Regions from separate parts of the Homo sapiens genome. Here region 2 is linked to region 1. Evidence: fine-mapped expression QTL. A gene starts in region 1. The other region holds a variant in brackets. All regions are shown on one strand. Distances are from middle to middle.

The links. PIP is the estimated chance that this variant, and not a neighbour inherited with it, causes the effect. A credible set is the group of variants that fine-mapping cannot tell apart.
Region 2: its variant is the best candidate, but not a certain one, in a credible set for the expression of NCOA1 in whole blood (INTERVAL, PIP 0.86).

The regions. Positions count from the first base shown.
Region 1 is chr2:24,488,321-24,493,696 of GRCh38, reverse strand. NCOA1 (nuclear receptor coactivator 1) reads right to left here and starts at 2,443. Exons shown (of 23, transcript NM_003743.5): 1 at 2,095-2,443. RefSeq lists silencers at 1,671-2,160, 2,315-2,473, 2,451-2,790.
Region 2 is chr2:24,450,165-24,455,540 of GRCh38, reverse strand. All of the region lies in intron 2 of LOC105374329 (a long non-coding RNA gene), which reads right to left. Among named protein-coding and RNA genes, the nearest start is that of NCOA1, 38 kb to the left of the region's middle. The variant A/G (reference allele first, on the strand shown) is at 2,914.

The DNA.
Region 1 (5,376 bases):
GTTCGCAGAAAGAGGCAGGAAGAAGCATTGTCTATATAATCCTAGTTTAAGTGAAACAATCACCATTAGCTCCATCAAGCACTTTTTTTTTTTTTCCAATAAAACCACTGCAGATCTAAAATACTCTCTTGGTTTAAACCACACAAAAAGCAATTTAATAGGCACAATCCTACAGGTTTTCTGAGAGAAATAAGGAAGAGATCAAGTGTAAGCTACGTAAAATTCACGTTTTGCACCTTATAAAGCAAACTTCAATGTTGTTAAATAACCAGTAGAAAATATCTACAAAAATCAAACTAAACACCTGTTCTTATAAGCAGCAGTCCTCTATTTTCTCTCTAAACCATATATTCCCAACTCAGACCCTCTCTGTGACCCACTGTTCCCAAAGCATAGAGTCTGAAGAAGAAATATAAAACATTTCGGACATTCGTTCACAAAACCAAATTAGACCTTTCCACAAAGTACAGGAGATAAAACAGAAACACTTCCATTTTATCTAATTTATGGCAAATAGTTCAAGGAATGCCTATTTGTTAAGCTGAATCAAACCCCACTGCTACCTTTAACCCAAAACTATTTCTAGTTGAAGATCCAAGAGACCTAAGCAAATACTTTCTTTTCACATTATTCTCAACATGAAGAAATCCGACCCCCTTCCTACAACATCATAGGAGGCCCCTCTGGCCAACTTTCGTTGTTATTGTTGTTGTTTTGTTTGCTTTTTTTTTGAGACTAGCCTCCAACCAATTCCAGAAGAGGAGACAAACCTCAAACAAATTTAACCCTTGAGATCCATCCCTCAACTGTATCATATAATCTACGCTTCACGGCAGTAATGTTTTAAGCAGACACTTGATTTCTTAATCACTGAAATGTAAGCACCAGCCCTCACAAATCATCGCCACAGAGATTCCTCTTGGCATCCACAGAGGGTGCTGGGACTGCAATTCACTCAAGAACCCTTTACTCACCAACATCACACTCGACATTAAAAACTCACCGTCTCCGAAGAAAAAATGTCACCTTCTGCACAAGGACACCTGCCTGTTCAACACCTCTACAAGAAACGAGGAGGGCCAAGCATGAGAGGCTAACAGATCCTCCAGCTTAAAGTTTTCCTCCCCATGAAACTCTCCGGACACAACACCGTGGCCTGTCCTTGTCACACACACACAGGCTGTATTGTCAACCCCTCCGTCTCCCTCTAACGTCGTCAGACTGGGCAGTGTCTACCCATGGGGGTAACTGCTTTTAAATAAAATAAAAAAGCAGCCACCACAGCTGGGTAGTAAGGACTGGAGACCCTGGGTGTCCGATTTTTTCAGGTCTTTTACAAGGGACTAGAGAGCGGCCCGAATTCTGTCACTGCCCACTAACCAACCCCACCTCCCAATCGCCTCGTCAACATGTTTGCTTCCCTTCCTCGGCCCTTTCGGCTGAATCCCAGGAAGGGGACCAAACCCGGGCCGCGACAGGAACATGTCCAGTATCCATCCCATGTCTACCTCCGAAACCCCTTCTCGGGAGAAGGGGCGAGCAAGCGCGCCGGGGTCAAACCCAAGCGCCGTCGAGGGCTGCGCCGACGGAGAGGGACGCCGCGGTCGCCCCCATTTCGCGGTCCCGGCAGGCGAGATTCCGAGAGGTGAGCGGGCCGGCCAAGGTCACGGCGTCGTCGGGGCCGAGGGGCGCCCGCGCCGACTTCCGGCTCCCCCTCTCGGCGGCGGCCCGGGGCGCCCGCTCCCCACGCCGGGCAGGCGGCCGCGCAGCTCGCACCCCCTCCGCGGATGCTCGCCCTCTCCGCGCTAACTAGGGCAACTGGAAAAGAGGCGGAGAGAAGTCGCTGCTGCAGCGATTTCCCCCGGCGGGGAGCAGCCCCCAGCTGGTGCCCGTGACAGCTGCGACCTCCGCCCCCTCCAGCCGCGCCGGGCCGCGAGGGGAACTCGGGGAAGTGGGAGGAGGATGGAGCGGGAGAAAGGAGAGCAGGGGGCGGAGGGGCGCCAGCTGCTCCCCGCCCCCTAGGGCCTCCGCGGCCGCGCGGCTCGTGACAGCTGCACCCACCGGGAGGCTCCGCACCCGCAGCCCGCCACTCACCTGCCGCCGCCGCCTCTGGGCCCCGCTCACCGGCGCCGCACTCGTCCGCGACCGTGGCGGCGGCGCCGCCCCGGCCTCCGCCGCTCCTCGGGCCCGGCGCCGCGGCTCTCCGGCCCCCTCCTCCGGAGCAGGGGTCCCCCCGCAGGGGGATGCAGAGGGAACCTGACGCAGGCTCCGCTCGAGGGAGCAGCAGCGAACAGGCGGCGGAGGCCCTCAAGGCCGCGAGGCAGCCGTCGGAGGACAGAGCTCAGCAAATCGCGTCAGACTCCCGCTCGCCCGGCCTGAAGAACAGGCATTTCAGCCGCTCTCCGCGGCCGCCATGTTCTCCTCCTCGGCCGCCACCGCCGCCGCCGCCACCGCCCCCCGCTCGCGGCACCGCCCCCTTCGCGCCCCGCCCCGCCCCGCCCGTTCCCGGCCGCCCGCCTGCCCGCCCGCCGCACTTCCCCTGCCGGCTCCGGCCGCCCGGGCCGCCGCGACCCGGTGCCCGCGAGCTCCGACAGTGCGCCCGGGACAGCGCGCCCCCAGCCCGCCGGGCCTGCCGGGCCCGCCGAGCGAGGAACCGCCCCGCGCCCTCTGCCGGCCCGCCCCAGCCGGCGTCCTAACGAAGTGTGGGAAAGGAGGCCCGAACTCTTCCCCGCCCGTCTCAACTCCTCCCCGCCCCTCTCCTGCCCTCCCCTCGGGGCGTTCCTCCCACTGCTGCCGGGAAGCGGCCTCGAACACCAGGGCGCTCGCAGCTAGGCCGCCGGGCCTGCCGCCTCCCGCTGTTCTTTATCTTTCTGGGAAGGTGTCGGAGCGGCGAGAGGCCCTGCGGACGGGGCGGAGTCGGCTCCGGGCCTGTCCCTCCACTCGGGCGTTCTGTTACTTTGAGCGAGACATATCCCGCGGGCCTCGTTTTTTATTCTGTAAAATTGGGAGGTGGTTGCCTAGATGATTTCACAGGCTATTAGACAAGAGAAAAGGAAGATCGTCTGCCCCCTTCGTTTTACAGATGAAAAGATCTGCCTGACCCGTTCTGGCTCTGCAATTCCATGAATTATCTAAAATGTCTGTCATTCACAGATCTTTCCCCTCAAGGGGCCCACACCTTTCTTCTTATCTCCCTTTTCTTTTTTTTTTTTTTTTAACTTCTCTAATAGAAGTGCTACTTCCAAAAGTAGAGTGTTCTTGTCACCAGAGGAATCGAACAGCGGCTGAACAGCCTCTCTGAGCTGCGATGGCCTTATCTGGACCGCATCCCGCATTCCAAAGGCTGGCAATGCAATATATACCTATGTCTCTCCCTGGGTTGTCCTAAGCATGAATGAGTCACTCGCCGTGGAAGTGCCTTGTAAAGCATACATCTGTCCATTCCTTTCTTTTATTCTTACCCCATTTCGCACTCTTACCCTTCCTCAATCCTGTCCTGCTGCTGCTGTCTCCCGGCGTTTCCTGCTGTTTCGCTTCCTGTGTGTTCTCCCCTAAATCAATCTCTGTAAATCCTTAAGCCCTTCCCACCCTTCTCCCAACTGGGGAACCTGACAGCCTTGAAAACACCAATCTCCGTGGCAGCTCTCTGAGTCGACGGGCAGCTTCTTTCACAGGCAGGTACTACTGTATGCTTTCACCATCCTCTTCCTATCCTTGTCACGCTCATAAAGTAATCGCTAGACCACACCCCCACATGCATTCATATATTCATTCATTTATATATTCATTCCCCTGATTCTTATCGGAGACCTACTACTGGGGCCCTAGGTGCATCTCCTGAGCTCTGGCTTAGCAGTACCTCTAGCCACCCGCAGAGTCCCTATCCCCAATAATAGCTGAAAATACCCGGGCACTCATGAGTTTCGTCCCCTAATGTAGGGCCTACTTCCCAATCTAGTCCAATGCAGACTGTGTGAAAGTGCCTTGTTCTAGCCTCTGGTGCCAACAAATGAGCCACTTGTGCAAGGTACTCCTGTCTCCACTAGACTCTAGTAAGTGCTGAAGGCCAAATCTAGTGGCCACTTCAGTCCTACTGTCGTGTGGCCTTTCTACAGCACGTGATACTGCTAACTCCTCCTTTTTGAAACTCTCCTCCCTTGTCTTCAATATGAGTCTCTCTACCTGATTTCTGAACTTGCCTTCGTTTGCACTTTTCTTGGGCTGCTCCTTTTTTACGGGGCCATAAAAAATGTTGGTATCCTCAAGGTTTTATTTTTTTCCTTCCTTTCCTCTGGCTTCGGTTGACTGTTTATTTCCACAGCTTCAACTGTTAACAAAACAACTCCTGAATTTCCTTCTTCCAATCTCCCACTCTGCAGCCCGGGGTCGTAATTAACTTTAAAATATCCTCAAGACACACAGTGCTAAGATTTTGTTGAATGACAAATTATTTAGGTGTTAATTTATATTGCCATAACCATCCATGTATGCTAAAGAGAGAGTTCTTTTCTAGAATGGTACTGTTTCTTTTTTGTTGTTGTTGAAACAGAGTCTCGCTCTTGTCGCCCAGGCTGGAGTGCAGTGGCGCGATCTCAGCTCACTGCAGCCTCTGCCTCCTGGGTTCAAGTGATTCTCCTGCCTCAGCCTCCCGAGTAGCTGGGATTACAGGCACCCGCCACCACGCCCGGCTAATTTTTTGTATTTTTAGTAGAGACAGGGTTTCGCCGTGTTGGCCAGGCTGGTCTTGAACTCCTGACCTCAGGTTATCCACCAGCCTCGGCCTCCCAAAGTGCTGGGATTACAGTCATGAGCCACTGCGCCTGGTAATGTTTCTTAAATAATAACTCTTTGACTTTTTTCTCCTTCCTCTACAAGTCATAATCACTTGTCAAAGCAGTTATAACACCCTTTTATGTCTCCAATTGGTAATCTTTTCTCTGGTCATACTCAACTTCTCTCAGACTCCATCTACTTTTACTAAACAGGCCCATTTTACTAATCCACCCGAGCAACCCTAAATATAGGGCCAAAAGATTCATTAGATTTACTTCGTGACTGTACAAGTAGCCTCTCTAAAATCCATTTACCTTAGCTATTTAAAATTTATTTACTCCCAAAATACAATGCCAATCAACAAGGAAGACTAACTCCAATTAAATGAAAATGCTTTGAAGATATTTATAAATAAAAATGTAAGACAACATTTAACTCTTATAGCCCAGATAGAACTGGTTTTAGTCCAAACCCTATTGTTTCCATAAATTAATATAATCCTTTGGTGGACTAGAAACAGCCTAGTTCTACGGGCAAAATCTAGAACATACCTGTTGGATTTTCTCCAGAGCATAATAGATTTCCAGTTCTATAAAATATATG
Region 2 (5,376 bases), 38 kb after region 1:
CAGCCTGGCCAACATGGTGAAACCCCCCCCCCCATCTCTACTAAAAATACAAAAATTAGCCAGGCAGCGTGGTATGCACCTATAATCCCAGCTACTCAGGAGGCTGAGGCATGAGAGTCACTTGAACCGGGAGGCAGAGGTTGCAATGAGCTGAGATCATGCCACTACACTCCAGCTTGGGCGACAAGAGCAGACTCTGTCTCAAAAAAAAAAAAAGGCTAGGTTTGGTGGCTCACACCTGTAATCCCAGCACTTTGGGAGGCCGAGGTGGGGGGATCATGAGGTCAGGAGTTCAAGACCAGCCTGGTCAACATGGTGAAACCCCATCTCTACTAAAAATACAAAAATTAGCCAGGCGTGGTGGCGCACGCCTGTAATCCCAGCTACTCAGGAGGCTGAGGCAGGAGAATGGCTTGAACCCGGGAGGCAGAGGTTGCAGTGAGCCAAGATTGCGCACTGCACCACTCCAGCCTGGGTGACAAGAGCAAGACTCTGTCTCAAAAAAAAAAAAAAAAGTCTCTCATCCTGTGGTGAGTATCCTGTATAACAGCAACGAACAACTTCCTTTCTAGGGAAAGCTGGCTTTCTCTCCATTTTTCAGAACAGATGTTTGTATTTTTTGATGAACCCTCATCCCAACTCTCTTCAGACTTCTTTTCTTTGGGTTTTGACACCATGCCTCTTGTTTTCTACCTGATCTGACACCCTAAACTTTGATTTTCGTACCCATGAAATGCTTATTTGCAAATATATGGTTATAGGCTGGAACTAGGTTTTTGTTACCTCCCTAGTCCACATCTTTAAAATGTTTCCTAGTAATGTGTGTTCTGCAAGAAATAAAACTGAGCTATGGTTCTGCAGAAACTTGATAATGTTCTCCCTGGAGGGCTCCTCATTCCTCAGCCTTCTGGGGACTGGCCACGCGATCTTCCCTCATGGGGTGGGCACTCAGCATGTACGTTTTAGACGTATTTGGAACCAGCAAGTTTGGTAGGACAAAGGATGTTTTAAGGATTTAAAGAGAAAAGGAGTCGCCTACATTGAACTCAATCTCGTGCCGAAATTCTTGCAGTCTCTGCCACTGACACCGCATGTGTTCTGGCTTTCGGCAGGATTGTTCTCCCCGGCTTTGCTCTGAAACGTAAAGCCCCATTGCCCACTGCAAGTTTTAATGAAAAGCAGCTCATAAGCAAGTTACGTAACCTAATTGTAATCCAGGGATCAGCTTGGTTATATTATTTAAAGAAATAGCATCCATTTTCCGTGACCTGATTTAGAAAAGAAACTTAGGGAGGAAAAAAAAAATACCCAGTTCAGCATTTGGCTTCCCGTGCTCATTCTAATGAGACTGTTGGTAAATAATTCAGAAACAATGACTTTTAAGAACATTAAACCCAACTTAGCTCAGGGTTCTATCTCAAAGCAGCTAAAGCTACTTAAAGCAAATTATAAATTATTATAAAATATGGAGCTTCTTATTGCAGAAAATTTGGTCATTTAAAAAGTTTATTTCCTCATCAATTCAACACATGCAGAATACTGACTAGATGCAAAATGGGGAATGCTAAAATGCATGGACTGTGCTCTCAGGAAGCCTGAAATCTGGTAGGGGTAATGATAATGTATCAACATTGGTTCATTAGTGGGAACAAATGTACTACAGTAATGCAAGGTGTTAACAGCAGGGGAAGTGGTGTTGGTGGGGGTTGTTACAGGAACTCTGTCCTATCTTTGCAACTTTTCTGTAAATCTAAAAGTATTCTAAAATTAAAAGTTTATTTTTAAAAACCTGGTTAGGGAAACAGTTGGGTACACAAATAGAAACACATCCATCCTTGTTGCCTGATTTATAGAAATAAAACCAGGCCTGCATAATAGGCAGCTTCCTAAGTGGTATGATTGTTTTATGAACTTCAGAAGCACAAAACTGGATTAATCACAGTTCTGATTCATATTAATAGTGTGTCATGAATCAAGGGCTATGACTGGCCCATTGGTTTTTAAATAAACCTCATTTCATTTATTTTCGTTGTATGTGTTATAATAATACAAGAAACCACTCATAACCCCACCTCTCAACCCAAAAGCCAAAAACTCTCCATGACATACATCGACCTACCTGTTCCATCCCATACCAGACCCCAACATTCTTCTCAGTAGTAACTATTCTTTTAAATTTTGTTTTTATCATACATTGCTCTTCTTTAAATTTCATTGCACATTTGCGTGGGCCTAAACAGTATACTAGTTTTATTTGTTTTGAATGTATTATATGTTGTCTTCTAGGACTTGTTCTTTTAGCTCAATACTATATTGCTAAGGTTGATCAATAATGTTGAGATCATACTCTATTCATTTTCACCATTGTGTAACACTCAATAGCAGGACTGTACCACAATTTATTTAACCATGTTTATCAGTGGTTTAATAAATTGTTGCTATTACAAATGGATTGTGCCATGAACATTTTTTTATGTGTGTTCTGGTAAACATATGCTAATGTTTTCATTGAACTAGAGATATGCAAGATTTAACAATCTTAAAACTGCATAAGAATTAAAGCTTGACAGTTCACTTACAGAAATTATGTTAAGCGTGTCTGGGGAAGAGCATATAATACAAATTCTTCACTACTGAAGCAAAGGAAAATATGAATTATACACTAATTTCACACCAGTTAGGATTTGATTTGTCTATAACATAAAACCCAAATTAATCATTCCTTAAACGTATATGTTGCCCTCATGTAAAACATCTGGAGATGAGAAGTCTAAGGCCAGTTTGGCAAGGTCTGCGGAATTGTCATGAACCCAGGCCTCTTCCAGCTTTTCAGTTTGCCATCCCTAGGGTGTGACTTTTATTCTTCTGGTCCAAAAGGGTTGCTCAACTTCTAGTCATTAAATCTGCCTCCTC[A/G]TCAGCAAGAAGGAGAAAAGGAAGGAAGGAGAGTGCATCTTCCATTCAAGGACACTTTCCCCAAATTGCACGTGACATTTCTAATTGCATCCTATTAACTAGAAGGGGGACACACGGCTCTTGCTAGTTTCAAGGGAGGCTGGAAAATGTAGTCTTTATTCTGGTCATCTTGTATTCAGCTAAAAGTTAAGGGTCCTATTACCTAAACGAATGGGAAAATAGACTTTGAAAACAGTTAATAGTCTCGGAGAATTATTACAGCTAAAGTGAAAGCAGAAAAGAAACCAACCCATCAAGGCCTTATTTTGAGAAGTAGAAAGAAAAACTAAACACCGATAACATCACCACCCAGTGATGACCACGGTTAACTTGTTGAGATGTATTTTTCCAGACTTTTTCATCCATATAAAAAACTACATATATGTCTCCAGTATAGCCATAATAATACCTATATCTATACCAATATATTCACATGTATTAGTCTGTTTTCAAGCTGCTAATAAAGACATACCTGAGACTGGGTAATTTATACAGGAAAGAGGTTTAATGGACTTACAGTTCTACATGGCTGGGGATGCCTCACAATTATGGCAGAAGGCAAGGAGGAGCAAGTCAACGTCTTACATGGATGGCAGCAGGCAAATAGAGAGTTTCTACAGGGAAACTCCCATTTTTAAAACCATCAGATCTCATGAGACTTATTCACTGTCCTGGGAACAGCAGGGAAAAGACTTGCCCCCATGATTCAATTATCTCCCACCAGGTTCCTCCCACAACACGTGGGAATTCAAGATGAGATCTGGGCGGGGGACACAGCCAAACCATATCACCACACATTACTTTTAAAGGGAAAATTTAAATTAGTGCCATCAGTCAAAGGGAAAGATAGCTGGGTTGTTTTCCTCCCTCCTTAAATTCTTAATAAACTTCATGGGAAATGCAACATTGGAGCAACTAGAGAAAAGAGGAGAATGTGGTCCATAATTGAATGCTGATATTTCTCAGGGGTGCCAAATGCAAAATATTAATAACTTTAACTGCATACAGGATGCTCTGGAATAAAGATTTAGAGGTGAATTTAAAATAAAATAATTAGTCATCCCAGAAAACCACAGGCATGTCTTCAGTGGGGATGGTAGAAAACTTTGTGGACAGAAAAATTAATGGACACAAGAACTTTGGGGAAAGCCAGACTAATGGAGTTTTCTAGATCATAGGTTAAAAAGAGTTACAAGTATCAATAACTATTTACCCTGAAGCACACCTTACCAGATGAGCACATGCTAGGCTCTCTGTTCTCTGTTTAAAAGTCTCCTAGATAGTGAACCAACATGGCATATGACCTTTTGTTAAGAAAAAGGACTATTATACAGAGCTGCAAATTCACCCAACAAACACTTACTAGGACTTACTACATGTCAGGTACTTGAGTACAAAAAAAGAACATACCATGGTCCACATCTTCATGGAGACTGTAGTACAGTAAGGCAGACAAGCACCTATAAAGATGAATTGGCTGGGTACAGTGGCTCATGCCTGTAAATCTAGCACTTTGGGAGGCTGAGGTGGGTTGATTTCTTGAACCCAGGAGTTGGAGACCAGCCTGCGCAACGTGATGAAACCCCATCTCTTAAAAAAAAAAAGATGAATTGAAGTTTACTATGTGTCAGACACTGTACTAAGCACTTTACATGCATTGTCTGATTTAGCATTTATGACTATCTATTCTTACCCTCATTTGACAGATCAAGAAAATGAAGCTTATAGGTCAGGTAATTTGATTGAGGTCACAAAGCTAGTAAGTGGCAGAGCTAAGAATCTATGTCACATCTGTCTGACTTTAGAGTCACCACTCTGGGCCACTGAGCTAAACTGTCTTACAGCCCAAGTAGGCAGTGCTATAATAGAAGTTGGTACAAAATTCTGAAGGAACACAGAAAAAGCATCAAATATCTGCCAGGGGAACATTTATACAGTAGTGTCTTAGCCTGTTCAAGAAGCTATAACAAAATACTATACACTGAGTGGCTTATAAATAACAGAAATTTATTGCTCACAATTCTGGAGGCTGAAAGTCCAGGATCAAGGTGCTAGCAGATTTTACATCTGATGAGAACCCACTTTCTCATAGAAAGGCCATCTTGTCATTGTAACCTCACATGGCAGAAGGGGTGGGGATCTCTCTGAAACCTTTTTCATAACGGCATTAATTCCATTCAGGAGCATTCTGCCCTCATGACCTAATCACCTCTCAAAGGCCCCATCTCTAAATACCCTCACATTGGGTATTAGTTTCAAAATATGAATTCTGGGATGGGGGGGTGCACATAAACATTCAAAGCACACAAAGTAGCATAAAGATAAGAAAATATGAAGTCTAAATATAATGTCAGTAAGTGTTAAAATAAAGATCAATGTGAGCATTAATAAATGAATGGAAAATATGAGATTTCTTCCATAGAG